Homo sapiens: one gene and its partners. The protein of the gene in region 4 interacts with the protein of the main gene of each other region in a pairwise test. Each region holds a gene or a part of one and is shown on either strand. Other genes may lie near its edges.

Region 1 (3,500 bases), on a different chromosome or scaffold from region 4:
AAGTCTTTGATCCCACGACTCCGTCTTGGCAGACTGCAGGGGAAATTCAGGTCTGGCCTGTAGTATTTCCCTGAAGTATAAATAAGCATCAGACGTTCAGTTTCATCAAGTTAGTACAGATTTGTTCCACAAAACTCCCAAGACCAAGACCCACTCTAACAGCAATGTTATTATTGAAATTATTGTCAACTGTGTTGTTTCTGAACATTCTCTGCAACGTGGCTTCAATTTGAGAAGAAAGTGCTGCTCAGCTGTGCACACAACATTTTCTCAAATGCAGACAACTTAGGTTTCAGCCCCAGGAACTATGCAACCCTCTTTGTCCTCCCAAAATGCCCCATGAAGATTCACTCTTACATTTTCCTGATGAAGAACCTGATAAAGTGTCTCTATGACTAGTTTAGTGTAACTCGGTAAGAATCTGAAGTTGGCATCAATGATCCATCCCCCTAGCTTTAAACGTATCCTTCTTGCTCAGGGGACAGAGTGCTTGAGCTGGAGATGCCTGTGTTGTGCATTCTTTAGTCAATTGCTTGAAGCCAGGCTGGAAGTGGGCTCACTGGGACTGTCTCCCACCAGAGGCTGCCCGGTGCCAGGGTTCACGTGGAGTTTGACCTTGAGTTCTAAGATCTGACAGTCTGGTAGCAAATCCTGGCATCACCATCTCCTCACTGTGCAGCCAGAAATAAATGACTTCATCTCTCTTATCAGTAAAAAACAGGGAAAGAGTAGCGATTGCGAGGTGTCAGTGAGGTAACACCCATAGCCCAGAGTCTGACTCAAGAGGGAGTGGTCAACGAGTCGGGGCACTGGTCTCATGTCACCACGTCAGGATGACTGATTATCCTCACACAGGACACCACGACACACTGCTCCCTCCAGTGCACTCTGGTTTGCCTTCACATTCTCCAAAGGGACCCCAAGCCTCCTGGTTATTAGGAGGTTCCAGCAGCCACACTGACCTTCCTGAGACCTGCTCTGCCATACATAGCAGGCCCTGCCCTTTGCACCCCAGAATATGCCAGGCCCCTTCATCCTGGCCCACAGCCTTGCACAAACCCAGAGTCAGGGGGCAGTGGGGGGCAGCAGGGGTCAGCGGGGGGCAATTTTTCATGCCTGCATTTTAGTTTCCATATAGGAGTTTTCTGAAGACTCCCTCCCTGGGATTTCCATGGGCAGAGACTCTTGTTTGAACACTGCATTTTAGAGGTGTTTATTCAATGCCAACATTAGCTCTTGGGAAAGGCAGTTTTAAAATCAGAGAGAAAGTCCATCAATTTCATTGTGTTCTCAAAGGCATCTGTGATCCCCCTCTAAAATGTCAAGACACTCCATTTAGGTATTTTGCTGTCATTGACACTTCAGCTGTGATCACTCTGGGGGCAGAGGGCAGAGCTCAGGAGAGGACAAGGATGTGGGGCAAGGTCAGGTCCTGATGGGAGCAGAGTCTGTGTGGAATATGGGGTGAGGTGAGGGGCCCTGTGAGGATGTGGGTGCCTGGGCCAAAAGTGAGCTGAGCTGGGGAGAGGCCAGTAGAGCCCCCCAAATCTCCCTTGTGTTCCCTGAGGTTGGTCACCTTGGGGGAGGACGTGGCTATACCTCCTTGTGATTTATTAAACCCTGCAATATACAAAATTCAGACAAACTAGATGTAATTCTTCACTTTATCAAGGGCCTCTCTACCTTGGGAAAAGATCCACCAGGAGTTTCCTTTCAGATGGGGATTTCCAGTGCCTTTAAAATATTTTCCCTTATAAGTGACTTGATCTTTTGTCCAGATGACCAAATATTTTTTCTTTTTCTATGAAGTTCAATAACTATTTTTGGTGTTGATTGTTTTGTATTGGTTCTCCCCACCATGGACAAGGTGTGTCAGTTCAATCTATAGCTTCAGTAATTCAATAGCTAAAAAAACTGTTTTATTGAAAAAAAGTTTCTTATATGTTTGTTAATGCATCCTGATAGCCACCTATTGTCTTATTGTTGCTTTAAGCTCTTGTATCTTTACTTGATCTTGTTTTATAGAGGTGACCATATTATTAGCTCTGTGAGTTCTTGGAAATATGCTTGATCATGATGTTATCTGCTCAGAATCTTTTCTGGTGTGTGATTGTCATCTGCCAATGGTTTTCCCTACTCATTTACCACTTTCTTGGGTCTGCTGGGCTTCTGGAGGGGGATCCCAAAAGGGTTCGGCTAACCTAGCAACTGTGAATTGATTTTGTCACTACATTCAATGCCTTAATTTATGTAATGGGTCATGGCTTAGAAATTGTGACACTACAGGCTTCCTATTAGGAGATTAGCATTGATGTGGACATTGATCATCAATACAGAGGTTGGCTTGTGGGTATGTGTATTTATAAGCACTATTCTTACTTCCTGGCATTCAGAGGAGAAAAGCTGGGGTGTGCAAGAGGCATGTTCAAGAATACGTCCATCTGTTAAGCAGCATAGCCAAAAATTACATCAGTTAAGATTAGGTTGGAGAGGTTCCAACACAGACACTCAAATGCATACATGGAACACCCCTGGAGGAAGATGTAGCAGGCACGTTTTCCACACATACAGTCTACACATGGTCATTCTACAGAATGGTGCCTCAGGGGATCTGGTGCCATGTAAGGTCATTAAGAAGGAGATCTCATTGGTTAGATCTACAGTGTTTCTGTCCGTAGACCCGCCTGAGTGTGACCTACCATCAGGAGTGGAGCATTGCTGCAGCCATGCCTTCCCGAAGATCTGATCCACTCTCTCCCCGTGGCGAACCACCAGCACGCTCTTCCTTGCAACGGTAGCCTGGGGGGTGGGGCAGGAAGCAAGGCACATGCAGTTTAACATCCAACTCACTGGACTTGCACCAATGGCAGCTCTCCCAGTCACCCAGCAACTGCGAGGGAATCTTTTCCTTCGTTAGTCAATAGCTCAGCCCATTTTGCCCAAATCATTAGAATGAAAGAGGACATGAAATTGACAATCTCTTCAATTTCTTCCAATGTTTTATTTTCTGGGCATTCTAACATCAAGAAAATGAAAAGAGACAGGATTGGCCCCTATCATGACACATCCGTTTTTCTACTTTTCTGTCTTTTCTAAGTCCTTATCATTCCCATAGAGACGTCTTAGGACATTATCCCTATCTATATTATAATATGTATTGTTATAGTATAGATTACCTATCTATATATCTAGTCTCCTCTCTTGCTGGCACACTTCTTCTGAGAAACCCTCCAGGACTGCCCTGGTGTTGACCTGTTGAGGGGCCGTCCTTTTATGGCTCCCAGGTATGAATTCTGCTTCTGAGCACCAAGGGGAGAAGCCCTCATCCATCCCCTTGCTGTTTTCCCATAGCTGGTCATTCTCTGTTTGGCTGAATGCTAAAGGAAAACAGTACTTTATAGTTTATTTACTTCTTCTCGGCATGAGACTGGCCTTGGCGGTGGCCAGCAGCTTCGAGCCAGGGACAGCAGCTCTCTGGCACCTTCCTCCCCAGCCTCAGG
Region 2 (3,500 bases), on a different chromosome or scaffold from region 4:
ATGCCCACCTAATTTTTGTATTTTGACGGGGCTTCACCATGTTGGCCAGGATGTTCTTGATCTCTTGACCTTGTGATCAGCTTGCCTCGGCCTCTCAAAGTGCTGGGATTACAGGCATGAGCCACCGCGCCCGGCCAAAAATATATTTTTTTATGGTTTTCATCCCCTTTTCTACTATACATGCTATACATGAAATATCTGACTCAGTTATCTGACTCTTCCAAATCAGTTTTGCTCCTGTGTGACAGAGCTAGTGGAATTACCTGAGTCTGGCCAGCAGTGACAGCCGTCTGGGGCTGCTGGATGATGATCTGCTGGGTCTGGCCCTGCTGGCCCTGCACCTGCACAGCCTGTCCACCCTGGATCTGGATCTGTCCAGGTGGGACCAACTGTATCTGCAGAAAAGAACATAAAAAAAGGATTGTACTCTACTGACACTGGTCTCCTTTGGTCCCCGAGAGTTATCCACATTTCTCTAGAAAGCAGAAAATGTTCTGAAGAGGAAAAAAGAAGTCCTGCTCTGCCCTCCATTATGAAGTAGACACAACTTATTTTCCATTTATGAAACAAATAGGGAATTTCGACACTGTCTGGATACCTGATATTAACAAATCAATGTCGGTTTTTATGAAAGATAGCAGTGGTATGATTATATATATTGAAAAGCATGCATATTTAAAATACACTCTGGGCTGGGTGTGGTGGCTCACGCCTGTAATCCTTGCACTTTGGAAGGCCGAGGTGGGTGGATCACTTGAGGTCAGGAGTTCGAGACCAGCCTGGCCAACATGATGAAACCCTGTCTCTACTAAAAATACAAAGATTAGCCGGGCATGGTGGTGCATGCCTGTAATCCCAGCTACTTGGGAGACTGAGGCCGGAAAATCACTTGAACCGGAGGCGGAGGTTGCAGTGAGCCGAGATCACGCCACTGCACTCCAGCCTGGGCGACAGAGCGAGATTCCGTCTCAAAAAAATAAAAAAATAAAATACACTCTAAAGTGCTTTATTATTATTTTTTAATCTTGCCATTTTGGTGAATGATGAAGTACTTTTTTACAGAGGAAATACTATATATATTAAAAATGCTGAAAGCCGGGTACAATGGCTTATGCCCATAATCCCAGCACTTCAGGAGGCTGAGGCGAGCAGATTAGGTCAGGAGTTCGAGACCAGCCTGGGCAACATGGCAAAACCCTGTATCTACTGAAAAATACAAAAATTATCCAGGCATGGTAGGACATGCCTGTGGTCCCAGCTACTTGGGGAACTGAGGTGGGAGGATCATTTGAGCCTGGGAGGCAGAGGTTGCAGTGAGCCAAGATCCGCACCACTGCATTCCAGCCTAGGCAACAGAGCGAGTAACTGTCTCAAAAAAACAAACAAAGAAAAAACCCAAAATGTATTCTACTCTAGTCAAATGTGACTGCAGCCCAGGACAACACCTTGATAAGGGCCTTGAGAGGACCTTGAAAGAATCCAACACAGCTGTGTCAGGATTCCTAACTCACAGAAACTATAAAATAAATTTTTTTTTTTTTTTTTTTTTTGGAGACGGAGTGTCGCTCTGTGGCTCAGGCTGGAGTGCAGTGGTGTGATCTTGGCTCACTGCAAGCTCCGCCTCCTGGGTTCATGCCATTCTCCTGCCTCAGCCTCCCGAGTAGCTGGGACTACAGGCGTCCGCCATCACGCCTGGCTTAATTTTTTTTTTGTCTTTTTAGTAGAGACGGGGTTTCACTGTGTTAACCAGGATGGTCTCGATCTCCTGACCTTGTGATCCACCCGCCTCGGCCACCCAAAGTGCTGGGATTACAGGTGTGGGCCACCGCACCGGCCAAATGTTTGTTGTTTTAAGCTGCTAACTTCTAGGATAATTTGTTATATGGTAATAGATAATTAAGGCAATGTGACAGATTATATTCCTCCTATTAGTTTCCAATTACCAATACTCACTACTGTCATTAATGTTTGTCAAATTTTTGTTGATTTAATTTGTATCTCCTATTTGGTCCTAGGATTGGATAGCTAAACCTTATAAAGCAATTATGGAAAGCAAGGGATCGTGTGCTATCCAAATCTATCTTCTTTCTTTTTTTTAATGGCTATAGCCACTTTATTAGGAGTGTTATCAGAAACCTGACAAGAAGCTTGAAAAATATTTCTCTAAATTTTGGAACTAAAAAACTGCAATACAACCCTTTAAATGTTGGGTGTACAAAATCCTATTTTCATATAACTAGTGAACACTTTTTTTTTTAAGTGCAAAAGAGAAAGCAGTGAGGAGAGCCCCATAGCTCAAAATGTCTTGTATTTTATATTCAAGAATACCTCCCAAACTTAAAAGCCAGAATACATGGCTAGTACTAAGTAACCTTCTCTTTGCTTCTTTGACCATTAATTCCATCAACAAACTTTTTTTATTTGAGCATTGCTTCAACATAGATGGCAGTCTGGAAGGAGGATACTTTCAGAAAGATAGATTTTTATAGCCAGGTCACTTTCCATCCATAATTTCAACTTGGGACCACCTTGGTCTGGAAAGAAGAACATGCCTAGAACCTTAAGTTATCACAAAGTCTACCAGCTGATAGGAAAAAGGACTACTGATGGAAGGAAGGTGAAAAAAACAGGTCAATGGGTTCCATGTCTTAGAGACATTCATGGATCCTACTTTGTTAGGGGATAGATTGCCTAGGTCTTCTGAATTATTTTTTCCAAATACTCAGCTCATAATTGGCATTCAGAAAGTATTGGCAAATAAATAAGTAAACAAATTTATCTGGTTATGTGAACCAACTTCATTTCTAAGTTTATATTGGCTGTTAGGATTTCCTCTTCCATCTATTCATATTCTTCGCCCATTTTCCTATTTTTGTATAAATACATAAACGTTATTTATACATATTCTGAATACAAACTCGGTTGTATGTATTAAAAATATCTTTTCCAAGTTTTCACCTTGTTTACTTTTATTTGATGTATTTCAATGCATATTATGTTTTAGTCAATTTGTTTTTAAAAATATCCTTCTCTATAGCATAAAAATTCTTATATTTTCTTTTGAATTTTCCAAGTTTACTTTTCTACATTTAGATCTTTAATCCACCTAGCAAATATTTTTTAAAATACAGTATGAATTAGAAATCAGTTTCTTTTCTGTATCATTCTTCAGCCATTTCTTCATTGATATGTTTATACCACTTTTATTATATGCCAACTTCCAATATTCTTCTATCTATTTCTTGGCTGTCTCTCTGGTTCCAGTATCTTTCTCAGGCCAAGGATTTTAATCTAAAATTATATGCAGAATTTTTCATGAGACTGGACATCTCTACTTTTTCTTAGAGGGTGCAAGCTTTACTAGGATTCTAAAATAGAGAATACAATTCAAAAAAGGTTAAGAAGTAGTCTTCTTTAAAAAATGGCTACTCAACACTAATGAGAAAAAAAACTCCTATACAAAGGGGATTAAAGCCTTAAGTATTGTAAGGGAGGCTATG
Region 3 (3,500 bases), 7.9 Mb from region 4:
AGGCTAGGGTAGGCTGTCTCTTCAGGGTCCAGGGGGGTGGGCAGTGGTGGGGGAAAGTGCAGGTTGGTGAGGTCAGGTAGGGAGCCCCCCGTGTTCATGGCAGGTGGGAGGACAGGCACATTGGCAGGCTGGTCAGGAGATGGAAAGATGCTAGGGGAAGGAGAGAAAAAGAAAGATGTAAATAGGAGGGTGGGTGCAGTGGTCAGGGAAGAGCAGAGATCAGTCTCCTACATCTCCCTGTACTTCCTTCCCCCACCTCTCAGCCAACCTCAGGGAGTACTTACTTAATTCCAGGGACTTCACAGGACCGAGGTCGGGAAGAGGATGAGGATAGCTGAGGAGAGAAGGGAGAATATGGAAAATGAGGACAGTGCTCAGCAGAGAACCCTGGAAGGCCTGCCCCATGGCAAGGGGATAGCAGAGAGACTAGTGGGTGACACCCGGTGGCCTCCTCCTACCTTCTTAGCATCCCATGGCTTCAGCAAATGCTTGTCATCTAGCAAGTTCTCCTCAATAGCAGGTACTTGAAAGAGAAAGACTGGTGATGGGAGAGTTGGAGAAAGAGCCAGTAAGGCAGGACAGGAAGCAGAAGCAGGTGGGAAGGAGTCCTGCTCCCTGAACCTGCACACAATCCCAACACCAGCCCAGAAATTCTTTGGCATTCAGTACCCACAGCAGTGAGGAACACATACCTTTGGGGTCCATTTCACCATCCAGAATACCTGCAAGGGATACAGTGGCATTGGCTGCAGTGCTCACTTGCCTACCTGCTTTAAATAGCTCCATGGAGGCCGGGTATGGTGGCTCATGCCTGTAATCCCAGCACTTTGGGAGGCCGAGGCAGGTGGATCACGAGGTCAGGAGTTCAAGACCAGCCTGGCCAAGATGGTGAAACCCCATCTCTACTAAAAACACAAAAAATTAGCCAGGCACAGTGGCAGATGCCTGTAATCCCAGCTACTCAGGAGGCTGAGGCAGGAGAATCGCTTGAACTCGGAGGGCGGAGGTTGCAGTGAGCCGAGATCACGCCACTGCACTCCAGCCTAGGCGACAGAGTGAGACTCCGTCTCAAAAAAGAAAGAAATAATAAATAAATAAATAAATAAATAAATAGCTCCATGGTTACTCCCAACCCTGGGACAGGGCCACTTACCCCCACGTCGGCTGGGCAGGATGCTGGGAGGTGTGGGGCCTGGGTAGGTATCCTGGGGACTGGGGTTCATCACACTTGTATGAAGGGCAGAGTCAGAGCTTGTCCTATGGGGGGAGCAGGAATGAGCTGACACCAGTGACAGTCTTCCTGGTCCCTAAGCCCTGCCCAGCAAGGGAAAACACTAGCTGGTCTGGAACAGGGTGGGGGTGAGGGAGCAGGGCCCCAGAAACTACAGATAAGAGATCTGGCCTAAAGAAGGCAAAAGCCATCACCTGTTAAGTGCAGATGGTAGTCGAAACAACTGCCCCTTCTCTGCAGGGAAATTGCCCCAGGCCATCGTCCTGGGGTAGAAAAACAAAGTCATGAGGAGGAAGGCTGGCAGTGGACAAGAAGGTGGGCATAGGGGTTGGAAAATGTGGGGCAGCTAAGGTGGAAGTAAAGATGGCTGAGCACCCAGATCATCCCCTTTTCTTTCTGGTTCTTCTCCTGCCTATGATTGACCCCTCCCCCAGTCAATCTAAGAGAGCTGGAAACTTCTCTCTGCCAGGACCAGCTGAATGGGAATCTTGGAGCCCAGCAGCATTCCTGGGTATGAGCATTGAAAGTGAGATGGACAAGGGGAGAGTTTAAGAAATCTAAAAGTGCCAGAACACTACATCTTGCACCCACCCTTGACAGAAGGTTGCCATTTTCACCTGCCCCTCTGCCATTCTCCCCTCCCCCTTACACACACACCCCAGCCTGGCTATGGTTCCCATTGGTTCTGCTCTGGCTGGACTGGGAGGCTTGACCACTAGTGTCAACATGGCCAAGGCTGGACTCTGACCCACCTACTCCAACTGTCTCCACCTCTCTCAGCCCTGGCGTTATAGGAAGAGGTACTGTTGAAACCTTAGCCCAGTAATCCCAGCCCCAACCCAGAAGGGGCAACTCCTTCCAGAAACACGTCAGAGAGTAGGCAGGAGCTTCTGCCCGCCCTGGACACTTACCTTCGCCAGCTAGACTCTGGGGGAGGAGATAAGTAGGCAGGACTATAGGGAGAGCTGTCAATGTGAACAGCACCAGTTAAGGAAAAAAGTAGAGAGGACAGATGAGAGAGGCCAAATGAGGAAAGAACAATGAAGGCAGCAGATAAGTTGTTTCAAGAAACTCATACCTTTCTCCTCTTCTATAAGGGACAACAATAGGATCAAAGAATGGAAGAGAAAAAGGGAATCAGGTCTAAAGGGGCTGAAAAAATCCAGGAGAATGTTCAGGCAGGGCTTGGAGGAGACAGTTATGCAGGTCTCTGAGACTGAAAACTTAGAAATCTGAGAAGAGACCCAATCTCCTTTAGCAGGAGACAAGGAAGGCTTGCCTCTGGCAGCAAGCTGATGTGAAGACAGCCAGAGCCAGCCAGAGACAGGGGGCACAGCCTCAGGAGCAAAACTCCTTGTCACAGGAGCAGGTGCTGACGCAGGGGCTATGGTCGCTTTTCAGGGAAGCTGGGTAAAGAAGAGCTCCAAGAGAAGGAAGGGACGCACAACACTTCAAGTGCTTCCTATGAGTCCCTGAGGAACCCCATCCCACTACCTTTCAGACACTCCCAAGTCCCCTGTGAAGGATATGTGGCGGGTGTATCGGCGAAGTGGGGACACCATTCTTCGAGGATCTCGCTGCACCCGTTCCACCAGCCCATGGTGCCGAGTGCTCCGAGATGAATCCAAAGGTGAGTGGAGGGGGCTCTGCCAAAAAGGACAGAAGTCAGCAGAGGAAGCAGCCTAAGAAACTCCACTCCTCCCTGGCTGGGGTCTACTCACCTGGAACTCGGCCAGGCCAGAGCCAATCTGGTTAACATTGGGCAGAGACCCACCATAATGAGAGCTCCTTGTGTATGCCAGTCGCAGTTTTTGGGCCTGTAACTGAGACATGGGGAACAAGTGGGAATGTCAGGAGGGTCCTGAGCACTATTTCCTTCAGCCATCCTTGCCATCTCTGTCACCAGGATATGCTGCTGCCGCCACTGCTTTTAAAATATCTAGGCCAGGCACAGTAGCTCACACCTGTAATCCCAGCACTTTGGGAGGCCGAGGCAGGCGGATCACAAGGTCAGGAGATCGACACCATCCTGGCTAACACCGTGAAACCCTGTCTCTACTAAAAATACAAAAAATTAGCCGGGCGTGGTGGCGGGCGCCTGTAGTCCCAGTTACTCGGGAGGCTGAGGCAGGAGAATGGCGTGAACCTGGGAGGTGGAGGTTGCAGTAAGCCGAGACTGTGCCACTGCACTGCAGCCTGGGCAACAGAGAGAGACTCTGTCTCAAAAAAAAAAAAAAAAAAAAAGGATCACTTCAGCCCAGGAAGTAGA
Region 4 (3,500 bases):
CTATGCCTAGCATTTTTGTTACGTGCATGGATCTGCAAAGGAATTGTGGTTTGTTTCACAGCTGCATGTAGCAGGCATATGTGTGACATATTTTTATTTCAGCTATTATTTCCTGTTTTTTATTTTCAGCATGTTGGAACAGGATTCCAGGAGAATGAACCCTAGTGTGAGCCCTGCAAATCAAAGGAGGCACCTTCTAGGATTTTCTGCTAAAGAGGCACAGGACACATCAGATGGTATTATCCAGAAAAACAGCTACAGGTAAGATGGCATGCATCTATCTTTTGGCCTAAGTGATTTAATGAAGCTGAAACAAGAGAATTATCTGTAGTATAACATTGCATCTAAATTGTTCGTGTATATTTTGAGTAGTAGAACACATAAATTACTGAAACCATTAATACATTTTACTTTTAATATTGTAAAATTAAATTTACTTTGAAACCTTTTGTAGTTTTAAAATTCCTATAGAGATGTAATCTTAAAATCTCAGTTTGTGTGCATTAATATACATATTGAAATATATACATATTATATATAATGTCTTTAATAATTATTTTATCTATCATGTGTTTATACATATAATACATCTAATATTTGTTACTGTCTCACCTGTGGATGGATATGATATGGTGGAATAACATGATTGAACCTATTTGCAGTCATTAGGTAAAATCATTTATACTCATTTATTGTGATCTTTGTTGAATCCCTCCCTTGTTGCAATTTAATAATGACTTGATAAATTTCCATATTGCTTGTCAATAGCAAAAGGCTTTAATTGTATAAAAATGCAATTTCTATATTATGTTAACTAGAAGAAGGTATAGTGGACATTTTTATAGTTGTATACTTTTTGATAAACATTTCCCTGTGTTATTTAGAATTTGTATTAGAGCCAAATGGAGCCAGGTCCTTGACTAACAAGGCAAAGGGAGGTCACAGTATGGTAACTATTGCACAGTATAATGCTTGAAAATTATTACAGATTTGTTTACTTTTATCTCTTTAAGGATTTGTAGGTTGAGGGCAATCTTTCTTCCTGATTTTTACTGTGTTACATCCATACTGTTGAAAGATGATCACCACAATCCTGCAGGCTTGTCTCCACTTAGCCTTCCTGAAAAAACTGTTATTTTTGTGGAGTACAGTATGCCAAGTCAGTGGAGGACCCAAAGGATTTTATGGCAGTAGCTGCAACGCAACATAGCAATGATAGATGTCATAATGTTGGAAAACATAGCATTTCCTGCTTTTTTACATGCCAAAATTCATCATACTTCTTAAAATATTCACCTTGATGATCTCTTAACGGTGCCCCTGAATATTGGTAGAGTTTAATAGTATATTTAATTTTCATAAGTAATTTGTGCAGGTTTGCCCTACGTGTTCTATAATTTTGAATTCTGTTAGTGTCCACATAAGATCCATCAAAAATTAAATTTAAATCTAATAGCCTTTGGATTTACGAGAGTTGAGATAGCGTCTTGCTAAAGAATAGAACAAGTTATGGATTGAATGCTTGAAATTACAGTTCAGGTAAGCTTTACAAGAATATTATTTATTCTGCACTAACTGCAGCAAGTAGAAGCCTTCCACATTAGCATAAGATAACATGGTGGCTCCCAGAAAGCATAGTAGTCTGATCATACTAGTTCAAACTAAAAGTCTGAATGACTTTCTGGCTGAAATTTATCAGCTTTCAGAGTAGTACATGGGATGCAAGCTATTTTTTCCCTCCCTTCTCCAAAGTCACCATTGAGTGAATAATCTGGGTTACTGGTCTTGGGGAAAAAAAAAAACCAAAAAACAACCCAGGAAAGATTATGGATTCTTGATTCCATGCAAGTCCTTTGAAATATTTTTCAGCAACTTGAGAGATTTAAATAAATGTCAGTCCATTAATTTGATGTTCTTGATTTTATCAGTATAAATACTGAATAAAAGATACCAAAAAATGTTTGTGAAACATTTGAAAGCACCTAATATTACTTTGTTCTGTGTTCTGAACTGAATTTTAGATGTTTTATCTATTTTCAGCCGTGATACCTATACATTTTTTTTAATGCAGCTTACTTTATGTTTCTTTTTCTAAGGAGAGCTATGAGACATGGTTCAAATAAAAAATGAGTAGATTCTAATCCCATAGTTTATAATATTGTATTAGCCTATCATTTAGTAATTAACTGCTTATATTTTTTCAGTCATAGAAATGTGTGGCATATAAATAGTATGACCATATAATGTTCTATCAAACTGGGACACTCTTAAGAAGGAAAGGTAGTGCTAGTAATAATTACATCAGAATACCAGTACTGCTGTCTTGGATAAATGAGAAAGGATGGTCACCCTATATAAGATGTCACCCAGAACTGATCTTTACTCCAAGAATTCTCATTAACTCTAGCTCCCTAGCACTGTCCTTTACTTTATTTACTTTAATGATTTATTTGTTGAATTTTTTTCTCTTGGCATAAAATGTTTGCAAGCAGACTCGAACTCTGACTGTTCCTGGGCTAATGTTGGTCTAATTGTCTCCAGATTGTATGTTGGCTGATTTTCTCTCTCCTTTAACTCCACCCAATCCTTGTCCTGGTATTTCTCCTATCAGACTTTTTTTTTTTTTTTCCAAAGAATATTTTTGGCTGATAGAACAAAGCCAGTTAGCACAGATGTGCAGAAATCATTACTAGAGTTCAGATCACAAATATATTTTCAAAAGCAGTTTTGGACTTTTCTCATGGACTACAGTGTTTGTATTTTTCTAAGTATGCAGGCATGATTTTTAAAATAATGCGTATGTCATAGATTTATAAGAAGAGGTGTTAAGCAGCCTCCTCTTAGAGGCATTCAGATTTATCAAACACAAGACAGATACTTTTTTTCCTTCTCACTCAATGCTTCATTTTAGGCTGATCCTTTTGTGTTTGCATTCATTACCTGTGCACCAACATGTCTGTTTTATTCCAAACAACTTAAACCTACTTAACCCTTACAGCCACAAGAGAGGACATTGAGAATATTCCTGGTGCAAGTTGCAGGGAAGAATGTTCTATATATCCTCTGCTATTGTTTCTTTTCTCTCGTGTGTGGCATAAATAGCTATCTCTAACTTTTAACTTGAAGTTAGCCTTCCACTCTGCCAGAGTTATTTCTGTTAAGGGGCCAGTGCTTTCTGCCATCTTACTTGCCCTTTCCTCAGCATTTGGCTGTGTGGGTCATTTGCTCCTTGAAAGACTTTCCTTTTGTGTTACTATGGTTTTTTAGTTTCCTTTTTTTATTGGCTGCTGCTTCACAGTAATCTTTGTGGGCTCTTTTTTTACCCAACTCTCAAGGTTTGGAACTGTAAACTTTTTTTATTTTCTTTCTGCCTAGGTGACTCATCTATAATTTCATGCACAGTTCATATCTATATGTCCTGATGACTCTCAAATTTATGTTTTCAGTCCAGACTTCTCTTCTGAGTCTCCAGAGTCACATATCCAATAGTCTCTTTGACA

What was found. Proteins that work in one complex are often made in the same cells at the same time.
Region 1: the proteins of ATF6 (region 4) and UBASH3A interact in a two-hybrid assay, tested with the Homo sapiens proteins (one large-scale study listed by BioGRID and IntAct).
Region 2: the proteins of ATF6 (region 4) and NFYA interact in a two-hybrid assay, tested with the Homo sapiens proteins (one study listed by BioGRID).
Region 3: the proteins of ATF6 (region 4) and CRTC2 interact in binary tests that used the Homo sapiens proteins (3 or more experiments, as listed by UniProt).

Annotation. Positions count from the first base shown.
Region 1 is NC_000021.9:42,431,402-42,434,901, reverse strand, and holds part of UBASH3A (ubiquitin-associated and SH3 domain-containing protein A), read right to left. Parts: intron 2,800-3,500; coding exon 2,700-2,799; intron 71-2,699; coding exon 1-70. UniProt on the Homo sapiens protein: Interferes with CBL-mediated down-regulation and degradation of receptor-type tyrosine kinases. Promotes accumulation of activated target receptors, such as T-cell receptors, EGFR and PDGFRB, on the cell surface.
Region 2 is NC_000006.12:41,086,474-41,089,973, reverse strand, and holds part of NFYA (nuclear transcription factor Y subunit alpha), read right to left. Parts: intron 396-3,500; coding exon 264-395; intron 1-263. UniProt on the Homo sapiens protein: Component of the sequence-specific heterotrimeric transcription factor (NF-Y) which specifically recognizes a 5'-CCAAT-3' box motif found in the promoters of its target genes.
Region 3 is NC_000001.11:153,952,113-153,955,612, forward strand, and holds part of CRTC2 (CREB-regulated transcription coactivator 2), read right to left. Parts: intron 3,055-3,500; coding exon 2,953-3,054; intron 2,878-2,952; coding exon 2,761-2,877; intron 2,205-2,760; coding exon 2,143-2,204; intron 1,495-2,142; coding exon 1,426-1,494; intron 1,258-1,425; coding exon 1,154-1,257; intron 861-1,153; exon of another isoform or gene 787-860; coding exon of another isoform or gene 768-786; intron 723-767; coding exon 693-722; intron 539-692; coding exon of another isoform or gene 524-538; coding exon 459-523; intron 335-458; coding exon 285-334; intron 151-284; coding exon 1-150. UniProt on the Homo sapiens protein: Transcriptional coactivator for CREB1 which activates transcription through both consensus and variant cAMP response element (CRE) sites.
Region 4 is NC_000001.11:161,846,320-161,849,819, forward strand, and holds part of ATF6 (cyclic AMP-dependent transcription factor ATF-6 alpha), read left to right. Parts: intron 1-129; coding exon 130-261; intron 262-3,500.